4 separate regions of the Homo sapiens genome follow, and regions 1, 3 and 4 are each reported to be linked to region 2. Evidence: microRNA targets listed by miRTarBase, many of them from high-throughput screens and not tested one by one. Region 2 holds a microRNA gene; each other region holds the end of a gene's coding sequence. Distances are from middle to middle.

Region 1 (3,000 bases), not on the chromosome of region 2:
AACAAGCCCACAGTTAATGGCCCTGTGGCAACCCTGCCCTGGAGAATCTCAATAAGAGCATTTGAAATGAGGAAAGCAAGATTTCACATTTAAATATCTTGCTTTGGCACACAGTTGCTTTTATTGATTAATAAGCAAATAATTATAGGGGAACTACTATTCATCGAATACACTTATTAAAATATTATAGCACCATAAACTATATTGGTATAAAAATGTTTTATTCTTTCTTTTGTAGCAAGCCCAAGATGTAGCAAGCAGTCCACCTGAGAGCTCCTTCCAGAAACTAGCACCCAGTGAATATAGGTATACTCTATTGAGGGATCGAGATGAGCTTTAAAAACTTGAAAAACAGTTTGTAAGCCTTTCAACAGCAGCATCAACCTACGTGGTGGAAATAGTAAACCTATATTTTCATAATTCTATGTGTATTTTTATTTTGAATAAACAGAAAGAAATTTTGGGTTTTTAATTTTTTTCTCCCCGACTCAAAATGCATTGTCATTTAATATAGTAGCCTCTTAAAAAAAAAAAACCTGCTAGGATTTAAAAATAAAAATCAGAGGCCTATCTCCACTTTAAATCTGTCCTGTAAAAGTTTTATAAATCAAATGAAAGGTGACATTGCCAGAAACTTACCATTAACTTGCACTACTAGGGTAGGGAGGACTTAGGGATGTTTCCTGTGTCGTATGTGCTTTTCTTTCTTTCATATGATCAATTCTGTTGGTATTTTCAGTATCTCATTTCTCAAAGCTAAAGAGATATACATTCTGGATACTTGGGAGGGGAATAAATTAAAGTTTTCACACTGTGTACTGTGTTTTACTGATTGGTTGGATATTGCTTATGAAAATTCCATAGTGGTATTTTTTTGGATTCTTAATGTGTAACTTAAACATACTTTGAAGTGGAGGAGAGTCATAAGACAGAACATTTGGCAGGAATTGTCCTTATGAAACAAGAAAAAGAAAATGAAAAGTATTATTAAGCTTCTGTGTTTGTCTAAAAATGTGGCATATGGATGGCATTTAAAACTTTGAATGAATTATACCTAAATCTGGGACAGGGAGGTGACAGTGGAACAGGCTACCAATCAGAACTAGATGACTTTTAAGGCTCCTCCTATTATGAGACTTCAATTTCCAAAGAGAAGAACTAGCAGAGAAATTGTATTTCAGTAATTTTAAGCTCCTTCTGTCTTGTAGAGTCTTGTTATAGTTGTATAAATCAAAAACACAGAATAAGGAACATATTTAACTTTTTTTCATTATAAAATGGTTAGAGGACCCTACCCCCTCTAGATTCCCTGATTTCCCCAGGCCTGCAGCATACAGTAAGATGGGTCCCTGTGCCAGGCCTCAATACTGCCAGGGAATAAAACCAGAGGGAGAGGACCCTCAGTGTCATATCAGGAAGCCCAGTGCCAGAGGACAGACAGGTTCAAAACTGGCTTTTCCTCTGGGCCTGGGTTGGTGCTATAGGCCAAGGGTCATTTTATACTTGGGTATAAATCAATCCCAGTTTGGGAAAAGATTATTTTTAAGCTTAAAAGGCTGACATGTGCCATTATATGTAGTATGTAATATATGTAACATCTTCCAATTCTTTTAAAATAAAATTAATATTTATAATGGATATTTAATGATTGTTATTTTTAAAAACCAGCTTATAATTCCTCGTTATGCATGATTTATCCAAAGTTTCCATAGTTTTATTCAAAATAATAAATGTTAATAAGGTGATAAGGGGTATATTTAATGTATTGTATCAAATTGTGAATAAGAAAGTAGGATGGAGCTTTCTAGAGGTTGGGCCTTAGTTCTGTTATCCTCATTGCTTTTAACCAATAAGTTAAATGAAGTTAGAGTTATGGTCTTCAGGTTAGATTATGGACCAGATCTGTGAGGGTCAGCATGGAAATTCACATTCAACAAGGTAGCACACAGGACCAAGAGCAGCACATGCAATCAACTGGAATAATATAGTAATCCTGTAACTGGGTTTGAAAAAATAATCAACAAAAGATACAATTCAAGGGTTAGGTTGCAGAGAGCTGGCTTGAGAGTAGTTATTATGAAAAAGGCCTCAAGGAGTACGTGTTCAGTATGCTCTAAGATGATAAAGTGGCTGTTAAAAAGGGAGTTGATTTGAGGAAGTATTACTTAGCATTCATGCATATTGGGCTTAGGCTCTAGCCCTGCCACTATCATTGTCTTCTCTGGACTGTGAAGTCACTGAGGACAAGGAAACTAAATTTAATGTCTGTATCACTAGTGCCTAGAATTTCTGGACACTTAGTAGTCACCATCAGGCGTTTATTTAATGAATGAGAAGCAAAGTGACCTTGGTTACTTTTTTACCCTGAGGGGCTCAGCACTCATTAGGACTTGGTGCCTAATTTTATAAAAAGTCACTAAGCTCAAGTGCTTGGATGAAAGGACAGCGTGGATAAAAAGGTTTTTAAAACATGGATGTTAAGGCTGTTTTGCTTGGAGAAGACTTGGGACTGGGACAGTCTTTAGATATTATTTGAAATGCTGGCACTGTCTATCTGGATCCCAGGGCTTGAACTAGGATTTGAGGAAGTCACAGGGAAGCAGATTTCAGTCTGACATTTATTCAGTGCAAGTTTTTTGGTGCTGTAGTATATGATGAAAGATGTAAAGCTGAATAAAGCATTATTTCTGCCCTAGAGTTGTTCACAGCCTAGTCAGGCATATGGATATGTAAACAATGACTGTAACGTGTTATAGATGTAAAGACAAAATAAAGGTTAAAGAGGGCATAAAGGAGCACTCAATTGCAGAGATTTGAGGACATTATTTTTATTTTGAGCTTTAAAAAGATGAATAGGTGTTCTCAGGAGGTAGGGATCTGGCTGAGAGGGAATAATCTGAGCAAAGGTATGAAACAGCCTAATGCATTAGAGAAAAAAGTTCTTTTAGTAAGGCATTTGGGGTTGGGGAAGCTAGAAAAAGAAATGGGAGCTGGTCACAC
Region 2 (3,243 bases):
TGGAGAAGGAACTGACATATTCTTTCCATGTTAAGCAGAACTAGCTATTTATCTGGTGACCAATGCCTTAGGCATCTTTCTTGGGGACCAAAAAACACATGGTTATACTTAGTTTAGATTTTAAAATTTCAAGGTGGAAATGGTTACTGCACCACAGCAGGAGACTGATTCAACCAGTCCATGAGCCTTCACCTTGGACCTTCGGAAAGCATATCCTGGTGACCTACACCTTAGATAAGATCACTTCCGGTGTAGCCTCATGTCCCTCAATCTTTCAAGTCAGGCCACTCACTATTCGAGATGCTCCCTTTTCTGTTTCCTTATCAGACTTGCTCCCAGTCTGGTCCATACTGTGCTTCATCATCCGGCAGAGATGGGCCTCCAGCTCAGACTCGTTTTTGTTGTCGATCATCGTTAGGTGGTCCAGGATCTGAGGGAGACACATGCATGACTGATAGCACTGCCATTTCCATGATTTTCTCTCAAGCTCCCTCAGAGACCAGTTGCGATTCTTACTCACCTTGGGCCCTTTTAATTTGCATAAGGTGTGTAGCAGGGTCTTTAGGGTCCTTATGGGAAATTCACTTTTGCATTGCTTCAGTTTCTCTTTGGGGAAGACCTTCATGAAAATGTGGATATCCAGAAGAATTCTGTCTAGGTTAATGCTATTGATGGTATCAGGCAACAGTCGAACCATTCTCCAGAGACACTATTGAAAAAAGAATAAAAGAGTTAGGAGTGACTGAAGAATGAGGATAATTTGTCACCATTCATCTTCCCTAAGCTTTGAGCTCACTTCTAAAAGATGGCCAGGGCTATAAATGTGGCACATCATATCTTTCAAGTTCAGCTGCTAAAACATGAAAATTTTTAATCACTTCTACCATGACACCAGCTGAAGTGTGTCCAGTCATTCATCTAATCATCCATCTCTACTCCTTCCCACTCCCCAGAGCTAGGGGCCATCATTTAACCTGGTAGAAATTCTCTCTTGGGTTTCCTTCGTTCCTGAGAGTAAAGTAGTTCATGTTGCTTAACCAAATCTAATGCAAGGGGACAAAATATCTGATACTAATTCAGTGTAATAACAGTATTACAATGTTATAAATATGTTCATTTGGTCTCTTTCACAAAAGAGACCAAATATCATAGGGCTGTAGATATCTTTTTCCCCAAAATAAATGAAATCTGTTTCAAACTTCTTTCCTTTTGATCCTCAGAGAATTAGTAAAATATTTACAAAATATTTCCTCCCTTTCACTGTTTGAGGCCACGAACTGTTTAGGCCTGAACTTAGAATATAAATTGTAGGAAGGGAAAAACTGAAGACCAATTCATATATATATATATATATATATATATATATATACACACACACACACACACACACACACACACACACACACACGTGTATTATATACATATATAACATATTAAGATATACATATATAATACATATATACATATATATAATACACATATATATAAAAAACCATATATATATTTTTTAAGAGATGGGGTCTCACTGTTGCCAAGGCTGGAGTGTAGTGGTATGATCAAGCTCACTTCTGGGTTCAAGTAATCTCCTCAACTCAGCCTCCTGAGTAGCTGCTACTATAGGTGCATGCCACTGCACCTGGCTAAATTTTTAAAAATTTATTAATATTTTTATTACGAAAAATATATTTTCAGGTGTGACTTGGTTGATTTGAGCCTATGTCTTTCTTAGCTCCAATTCCTCTTTCCCCATACTTTTAACAAAGTGATTGCATCTTTGAAAGAAAAGAGATCAAATCATTTCAACTTCACCTTCATAACAAGCTCTGAGAATTTGGGAGAACTGGCTGTTGCTAGCAGGCTGTCTTGGAGCAAAACAAGTAGGGCACTGGAAGAAAAACCCAACACAACAGCATTAAGTTTCAAACCTGCATTCCAATTAGAATCAGCAGTTGAAAGGGCAAGTGAGATTACTCTATTCATCTAATAAACTGAGAGGTCATGGATCAGGAATTGTCCTGGACTACCTGACATTCAGTTAAGAAAATAAACATTGTTTAAGCCTTTTAAGTCACCACTTGGTAAGTGTAAGGTTTGTGACTCTATTTTTCATTGTCATTGGTAGCTGAGAAAGAATAAAATGTACCTGAAATGTACAAGAAAAATGTAACTGACAAACTTTACAGTCCTATTATAGAAAATGCATGATATTGGCTGGCTAACTAAGTATTTACTAGTTTTAGCTATGGTCTCAGGCTAAAATACCTTTGGTCCATGATGAAGAAGAGTAATAAATCAACTTCCTAGGCACACTTAAAGTTTTAACTGATATAGTTATAACTGATGTAGCTATAACTTTAAGTGTGCCTAGGAAGTTGATTATGATTGTTAGGTTGCCTAGGAAGTTGACTTACGGACATTATGGTTTCTAAGTGTAAACAAAAGCGAGGATGCCCCAGGCTCTATTGGCTGAGAGTACAGATATACCTCAGGATGTTGGTCTGGTCTGACTTCTCCAGAACCTTCACCACCAAGAGGTTCACAGAGCGGATGACCTGTTGTCCTTCCTCAAGATCTTCAATCCGAGAATCCAGCATTAAGGTGATGAGGCCATGCATTAGGTCTTTTAGTACTCCAGTGGAGGCCTCCCGGGCAAGGCTCTCTATCTGAAACAGCTATCCAGACATACTTGTGTCAGGGAGGTGTAAAACTCAATATAGAGAGTAAAGAAATGTGGGTGGCATATTCTGATAAATATTCAATTATGTTGTATTTTTTTTTTGAGACGGAGTCTCCTCTGTCGCCCAGGCTGGAGTGCCAGTGGCGTGATCTTGGCTTACTGCAAGCTCTGCCTCCCCGGTTCATGCCATTCTCCTGCCTCAGTCTCCCGAGTAGCTGGGACTACAGGCACCCACCACCACGCTGGGCTAATTTTTGTATTTTTTTTTTTTAGTAGAGATGGGGTTTCACCGTGTTAGCCAGGATGGTCTCGATCTCCTGACTTCGTGATCCACCTGCCTTGGCCTCCTGAAGTGCTGGGATTACAGGCGTGAGCCACCGCGCCCGGCTATGTTATATTTGTAAAAATTCAGAGTATTAAAGAAAAAACAAAATCACCACACTCCCCCAAGCCTCTAGTAATAGGCAAAATTAATCGGTGTGCTTCTAATTGTGAAATTTTTTGTTTTTTTTTTGAGACAGAGTCTTGCTCTGTTGCCCAGACTGGAGTGCAGTGGCACGATCTCG
Region 3 (3,243 bases), not on the chromosome of region 2:
CAATGCAGTGAGGCAGGCAATCCCTTGTTCAAGTCATTTCTGTTTTCCCTAAGTTATCAAAAAGTACAACTGTCTGATATAAATTGTTACCATAATCACAATCAGGAAGGCAAAGAAGCTTTAGCAGGCAGGCTTGAAGATGGGAGTTTTCATGGCTTGACCATGAATGATCTCAAGATGATTTCATAAGATTAAAAGCCATCACGAAAATACTGAAAGCAACAGGTAATAATCTGGATTCAGTCTGTAGTTGCTCATGAACCACGCGTTTTAATAAAAGGAACATTAAGTAAATTGTAGGTATAAAAGAATCAGTGCATATCTGTTAATGTCATTGACAATAAAAATATATTATCTTCTCAGCTCAGCTCTAAATTAACAAAACACCTATTTTTTTTTTCCCACTCCTCATTTTAGTGGTTCTCAAACATTGGTGTGCTCAGAATCTCCTGAGGTGCCTATTGAACAATGACATCCCAAAGCCCCACCCCTAAGATTTGATTCAGGTTGTCTGAAACCAGGCGCCATGACCCAGATGGTCCATGGATCATACTTTGAGAAACACTGATATCCCCTTAATACATAACAAAACATTGTTTACTGTTTATGACTTCATGGTAAAGTTTTAAGCTGAATAAAACATTCAAACAATTATTAGAACACAAATAGGTACATTAAATAAGGATATAAGCCATTACGCAATTGCATTTTCCTTTTAAAAGTGGCATCATAGACACAATGACTTACATAAAAATTTTAAAATCAATTTTGTTTTAATCCAAGGCACCTGTAAAACACTTGCTGGTGTGAGAGAAGTGAACAAATTCAATTATACAAAATAGTACAGAAATGAAAGAATCCTGGCAGTGATTGATTTTTCCACAGAGCAAACCTTTTTGTTCAGAAATGAGCTCCTTAAAGTCAATGATTTTGAGAAAAACCACACTTCAAATATGATACACATCATGTGAACTACTTTGCTGAGTGATTTTCAAGCAAAGTATATCACTAAGTATAAAAGATAAAAGGCTCATGCTCATGCTGTTTCATAATAGCCATCTCCATTTGTAGTAAGAATAATCAGAATGATTCCCCTTGAATTTCAGCCTGAAAAATGTATACTGCATAGATCTGGTATTCCTTTAATGCACAGGCACATATGACCATGGACTTTATAATACTGGATTTGGCAGCCTTTTATCTCAAGAGGATTTCTCAAGTTTCATAGTTTACAACTTAAATATTCCTCTGAAGGTATTTAATTTTTTTTCATGGAGCAAGAGTAAATTCTGTGATGATGAAGCCTCTGAAACATGAATTTCAAAATGTTAACACTACAAAAGAAAAATGCTAGAGAAGCATTTTCTGTGTTGAAATGACTGAAGTAAAGTGAGTTATCACTGGCATATTCTCTTTCAGTGTTCTAGGATAAATATCAACATAAAAAGCAACGCCAGACTGTTTGCACACACAGCACTCGTTTGGTATTGCTATAATACAGAGTTCTTCAGAAAGTCTTTATATATAGATTTTAGGTCGTTAGCCCAATCTGTAAATGACATTTGAGAGCAAACCTAGGGAGGCTTGGAATAATTCAACAGTACTATTTTATAAGATAGTATTGTTTGGAATTCTATGGCAAATGAAAGACAACCATTTTAGCTAAAAGAAGTAAAAGAGTATTTTGAAGGCAGCAAAAATCAGTATAAATCAGCTGTGAACAGAATTAAATTTGCATCTTAAAATGTCATTTACAGACTGTTTCTGTAATACCTAGAAGTATGCACAAAGACTATAAAAACTCCTTCCAGTCTGACATTTCAAGGTTAAGTTTACTAACAAGTGCTTCACAATGTCCTTAGTTCTGGCACTAAAAGGAAACAATTAGAAGTATTCACTGTTTTTCAAATTTTGCCTTCAAGAATCTTAAAACTGCTTCTACTACAGCCTCCTTGATTTAAAAGAGTATGCAAATGGTCACTAACCCCAGCCAGCATGAAGTAACTAATGTAAACCAGAATGTAGTGGCAGGTTTTGTGAATTTAAATCCTCAGATCATGCAATTTGAGCTGAATTTACATGCTGTAGTAAAGGGAGAAATAAATTCCTTAAGTTACAAATATAAATATAAAAATTATTTTCATAATATTGACCTGACCCCATTGGAATGAAGACATTCAAGAATATGGGCAATCATGAATGAATACATTACCAGGCAAAATACCTATAAAAGCCATTCTCAGAGGAATGTTTCCACCCACAAGGTTTTTTAGGCAAAAAGCAGCTATTAATTTTCCTCTAAAATTTCCTTTAAAAGTGAAATATATCATTGATAAATAGAGGAAAAAAAAATTTCACTTAACATTTTGAAGTCTATTACCAGATCCTTAAAGCTCTCAGACAAAATATTCTTTGATTTCAAAGGAAGTTGCATTAAGATGAAAGGACTGCAGGCCCAGGCCTTTGATTAGGAAGTCTGACCTCTAAAAAAGACTTTGGTTACAAAATAAACCTGATGGGACTTCTTAATTAGACCTCATATTCTGGGAGGCATGAGGGCAAGTGTGTTTACGTTATACAGGGAAACCTGCAATATTGGAGACTTAGGGGGTAACATTCATATCCAGGGGTTGCCCCCACTTTATTTACCCTCTTACTGGTCAATATTCTGCTCAGAGGCTGCATCATACTGACCAGAAATTCACTGAAATTTAGACAGATTTACATACTGTGAACAAATTAAAATGTGGTTGTCTTTGCTTTAAGGTTTATTCTTAACTGCAAATCAATGTTTAAACAGTTATTTTATTAAGAAAATTAATAATTTAGACTATGAAGCAATTTAAATACTTAAATTCCCTCAAAACGACATCATTTTGTACACAAATAGATGAAGTACACAGGAAAATGGTAGTCAAAAGAATTTTTTGGCAGCTGCTTCTTGCTGAGACCTAATGAAAAAAAGAAACAAACACTTAAAGAAGTTCTATACGCTTAACTTTGGAAAGAAACAGGACTATTTAAAATTAAAATATCAATGCCTTTTGAAGTATACAACGCATTAAGATAAACATATATTCTACACGTGCACTTTATGTGAACTGAAATGAACAGAAATCACAATAAACTTAATTTTATAGGTGGTGAAAATTGTATTATGAACATAGATAACTTAGTTGAATATTTCTAATTAAACAGATGCAGAAAAATATTGGGTCACATTTTATCAAGAGACTTACCTAT
Region 4 (3,201 bases), 13 Mb from region 2:
TCTGTTAGCATTAGTTCAGATCTGTTGGCAGCAACAGAAACTAATGCGAGCTAGTAGACTTTGAACACTGCTAAAGAACTTACCAAGAGAACTCAGATGTATAAAAGTGGTTAATTCTGTCAAGAGGCCCAAAGTCTTGGGCAGGCTCTTATTTTTTCAGGACACACATAAGACATGGGGGCTAACTGCAAGGACACAAGAAAAATATACCCATACCTTGAAGCCCCCAGTACATTCAAGACCAAGTTTGGCAAATAGATTAGCATCTTTCAGGAAATACCATGAGCTCCACTTATCTACTCATCAGGTGTTCCTTGCACCCCTAGCTCATCCCCCCAAGGGGACAATCCAATGGGCTTATCACCACCCAATACTGAACACTATGACAGTTCCTGTAAATCCAGATGAGTGGAGGGCACAGGGTATTGGCTCTCGAGCAGAGAGCCAGTAGGCATGACTGGTGTTCGATTCCTAACTCCCCTGCTCCCTGGTTTCATTTGGAACCAACTGAGACAGACACATGAATCCCTCTTCGTTGATCAGGGTCAGTTGGAGGATGTAGCTGTCGGCCTGGTAGCCAGGTGGGCTTGCTAATCCTGCACCTCTACCTTAAGCTTACCCAGCGTGAGGCCAGGTTAGAAAGTCACAGGCCTTGGCAGCAGGCAGAGAGCCTTTACTGTCATAGTGAAGAGCTTGCCAAGGACAGGACTGATTCTTCCTCCAGCCTCACCTATCGGGGCAGTCATTGTTCCGCTGTCAGGAGGAGAGGGGCCAGAAGGGTCACATTGAAGAAATGTGACATGAGGGTGGAGGTTCCTGTCCAGCACTCTTACACTCTCTATTTAACCTAGGCTGACTCACTGCAGTTGGCACTAATTTTCTATTGCCACAGCCCTCTCCAGCCAGGAGGGCCTGGAGTACCTGGGGTGCTGTTTGCCTAGTACTATAAATGTCTTTACATTACAGTATTGCCTTTGGGTCCAGGCACTCAACCTTGTCTATGGCATGAGTCACAGCAACTTTTTGCAGAAAGCAACCCCAAAGTTTAAGGCCATTTATATGACCCTTGTTGATTTGGACAGCTTAACAGCCCCATCTCCCCATTTAGTGGCACTCAGATTTTGCTTTAGAGGACTACCTTCTTCCCAGTGTAGTCTGGCCAAAAAGTGGGTACATGACACAAGATAGCAGTAAGCCAATCTCATCCTAGAATCTCAATCCTGAGAGAGGCTTCCAAAACTGTCGACTCCTGGCTTTCTGGAGTGTGGCTGAATTCCCCACCCCCCCGCCCCCAAAAAAGTTCCCAGAAATTCATTTTCTGCTTAAATTCATCAAAATTGTTTCTCATTCCTTAGAACTCACATGAAATGAGCTTCTTTGCTCAGCCGGTGGCTGTGGGCATGGTCAGTACTTCCTCAGGCCAAAAAAAAAAAAAAAAACCTATTGATGTAAGGAAAGACACTGAGCTAACAGAGAACACAGAGCACCAAGGTAATGCTAAGTTTTGATAAGCAAGTTTCTATTTTCCTATGTTCAGGGAACGGCATCAACAGAAGAAAGCTGGCACTGCTCAGGATGTCTTCTTTCAGTTGCTACCATTAAGCATACTGCATATCCTTTTCGGCCATAACCACATTCACCCACTTGTTATATTTCATTTTCAGAAAAGCATCATTCATTGCACTCGGTTTGTCCAACAGAGTATAATCAAGGGTTTTTTTTCAACATTAATCAAGAAATTCCTCCATCTGCAAAAGTCAGCCTATGCCATTAAATACAGCCAAGATCATAAAATACAAATGTCATTAGGTCTACTGAATCTTGAGATTCATTCACTAGAATACACAGGGAAAAGGAAAAAGTTTGCCCTTGTGAAAGGTGTGTATCATTTTTTAGAAGAGCTTCTGAAAGCCTCAAACATCTGTGAGTGTGCTAAGAGCCGTTACAAAGGTATTTTATACAATCTATGCTGAGTCAGCTAGGAGTTAGCAGGAGGCTGGATGCAGATGGTAAAACATACCCCTGCAGATCTGTTGTTATTAAGGATGACCTTTGGAAGTCTCAAACTGTAACCACAAAGGGTGTCCCCACTGCATTCATACTATATACACACATACCTGAACTGCCTTTCTACCAGTAACATTTAAAATAAGCACACTTAATACTGCCAGTCACATGTAGTAGAGTGTTCACTCTGTAACTGTGTGTGGCAAAGCCAAGATATCCTACCATTCCAATAAAAAAAAGGCAAGGAAATAGCTTTAACACACCATTGATGTATGCTATTACACTTTTCCAGTGGAAGATAACAAAGCCCATATAAAATTTAAAGACAGAGGAAAAACTCGATTTTCAGCCACTTGTACCTCTCTAAGTTTTCATGCCCTGCTATCTGGAACACTTCCCCACTTCCCTGCCAGAAGTCCTCTAGCTCTGCATTAAGGATCTTGTTGTCCCTGACTGACACCCACATATGGAACATTTGGCATGCCTCCATGGCAACACGGGATCCCTGAAGTTTATGAAAGCGTTCCATGTGAGAGAGGATGCTCATATACTCCTGCCCCACCCTCCAAAGATGTACTAATGATGCTAACTGACTACATCCAAGGAGCCAGAGGAAAAATAATCTGAGGGCTGCAGAGAACCCACTCAAGCTGTCACTGCAAAGCTGGTCTTCCCAAGAGCAAAGGAGGAAGCATGCAATCTAGTTCAAGTCACACCTACTTCACTCTTAGACTTCTTCCTTCAAGTGGGGCTTCCCTGCAAACAGGACTGGTCTTCAAAGTCTCCCAGAGCCCCTCTATCTTAGCCAGGTTGCTCAAGCTAATTTTATTCTTTCCCAACAGGATCCATTTGGAAAATATCAAGCCTTTAGAATGTGGCAGCAAGAGAAAGCGGACTACGCAGGAACGGGGAGTTTGGGAGAAGCTCTCCTGGTGTTGACTTAGGGATGAAGGCTCCAGGCTGCTGCCAGAAATGGAGTCACCAGCAGAAGAACTGTTTTCTCTGATAAGGATGTCCCACCATTTTCAAGCTGTTCGTTAAAGTTACACAGGTCCTTCTTGCAGCAGTAGTACGTTAGCTCATTTTCCCTCAAGCGGGTTGTGACGTCGTTGAAATTGCAATGCTCAAACTTCCAACACTTGTTATACACTTGTAACCCTGTGGGGAGACACACACAAGGGTAAGAAAGTAAGT

Evidence for each region. The annotated mature microRNA hsa-miR-5582-3p reads UAAAACUUUAAGUGUGCCUAGG and lies in region 2 at 2,300-2,321, opposite strand. An mRNA with a match to its seed (bases 2 to 7 or 8) in the 3' UTR can be bound and repressed. Matches are read on the target gene's strand: a 7mer-m8 pairs with bases 2 to 8, a 7mer-A1 pairs with bases 2 to 7 and ends in A, and an 8mer does both.
Region 1: the mRNA of ERP44 is a reported target of hsa-miR-5582-3p. Seed matches in the 3' UTR shown: 8mer at 596-603, 7mer-m8 at 801-807, 7mer-A1 at 1,711-1,717 and 7mer-m8 at 2,630-2,636.
Region 3: miRTarBase lists LMAN1 as a target of hsa-miR-5582-3p. Seed matches in the 3' UTR shown: 7mer-A1 at 1,928-1,934.
Region 4: the mRNA of CD59 is a reported target of hsa-miR-5582-3p. The part of its 3' UTR that is shown has no 7-base or 8-base seed match.

Annotation. Positions count from the first base shown.
Region 1 is chr9:99,979,952-99,982,951 of GRCh38, reverse strand. ERP44 (endoplasmic reticulum protein 44) reads left to right here. Exons shown (of 12, transcript NM_015051.3): 12 at 239-3,000. The coding sequence ends at 340. Among named protein-coding and RNA genes, the nearest start is that of STX17, 75 kb to the right of the region's middle.
Region 2 is chr11:46,750,826-46,754,068 of GRCh38, forward strand. It overlaps MIR5582 (microRNA 5582), which reads right to left and starts at 2,367; the gene lies at 2,300-2,367. It overlaps CKAP5 (cytoskeleton associated protein 5), which reads right to left. Exons shown (of 44, transcript NM_001008938.4): 37 at 2,485-2,672; 38 at 1,810-1,885; 39 at 521-709; 40 at 293-430.
Region 3 is chr18:59,328,179-59,331,421 of GRCh38, forward strand. It overlaps LMAN1 (lectin, mannose binding 1), which reads right to left. Exons shown (of 13, transcript NM_005570.4): 12 at 3,240-3,243; 13 at 1-2,951. The coding sequence ends at 2,915. Among named protein-coding and RNA genes, the nearest start is that of CPLX4, 11 kb to the left of the region's middle.
Region 4 is chr11:33,707,179-33,710,379 of GRCh38, forward strand. It overlaps CD59 (CD59 molecule (CD59 blood group)), which reads right to left. Exons shown (of 4, transcript NM_000611.6): 4 at 1-3,165. The coding sequence ends at 2,948. Among named protein-coding and RNA genes, the nearest start is that of C11orf91, 8.0 kb to the left of the region's middle.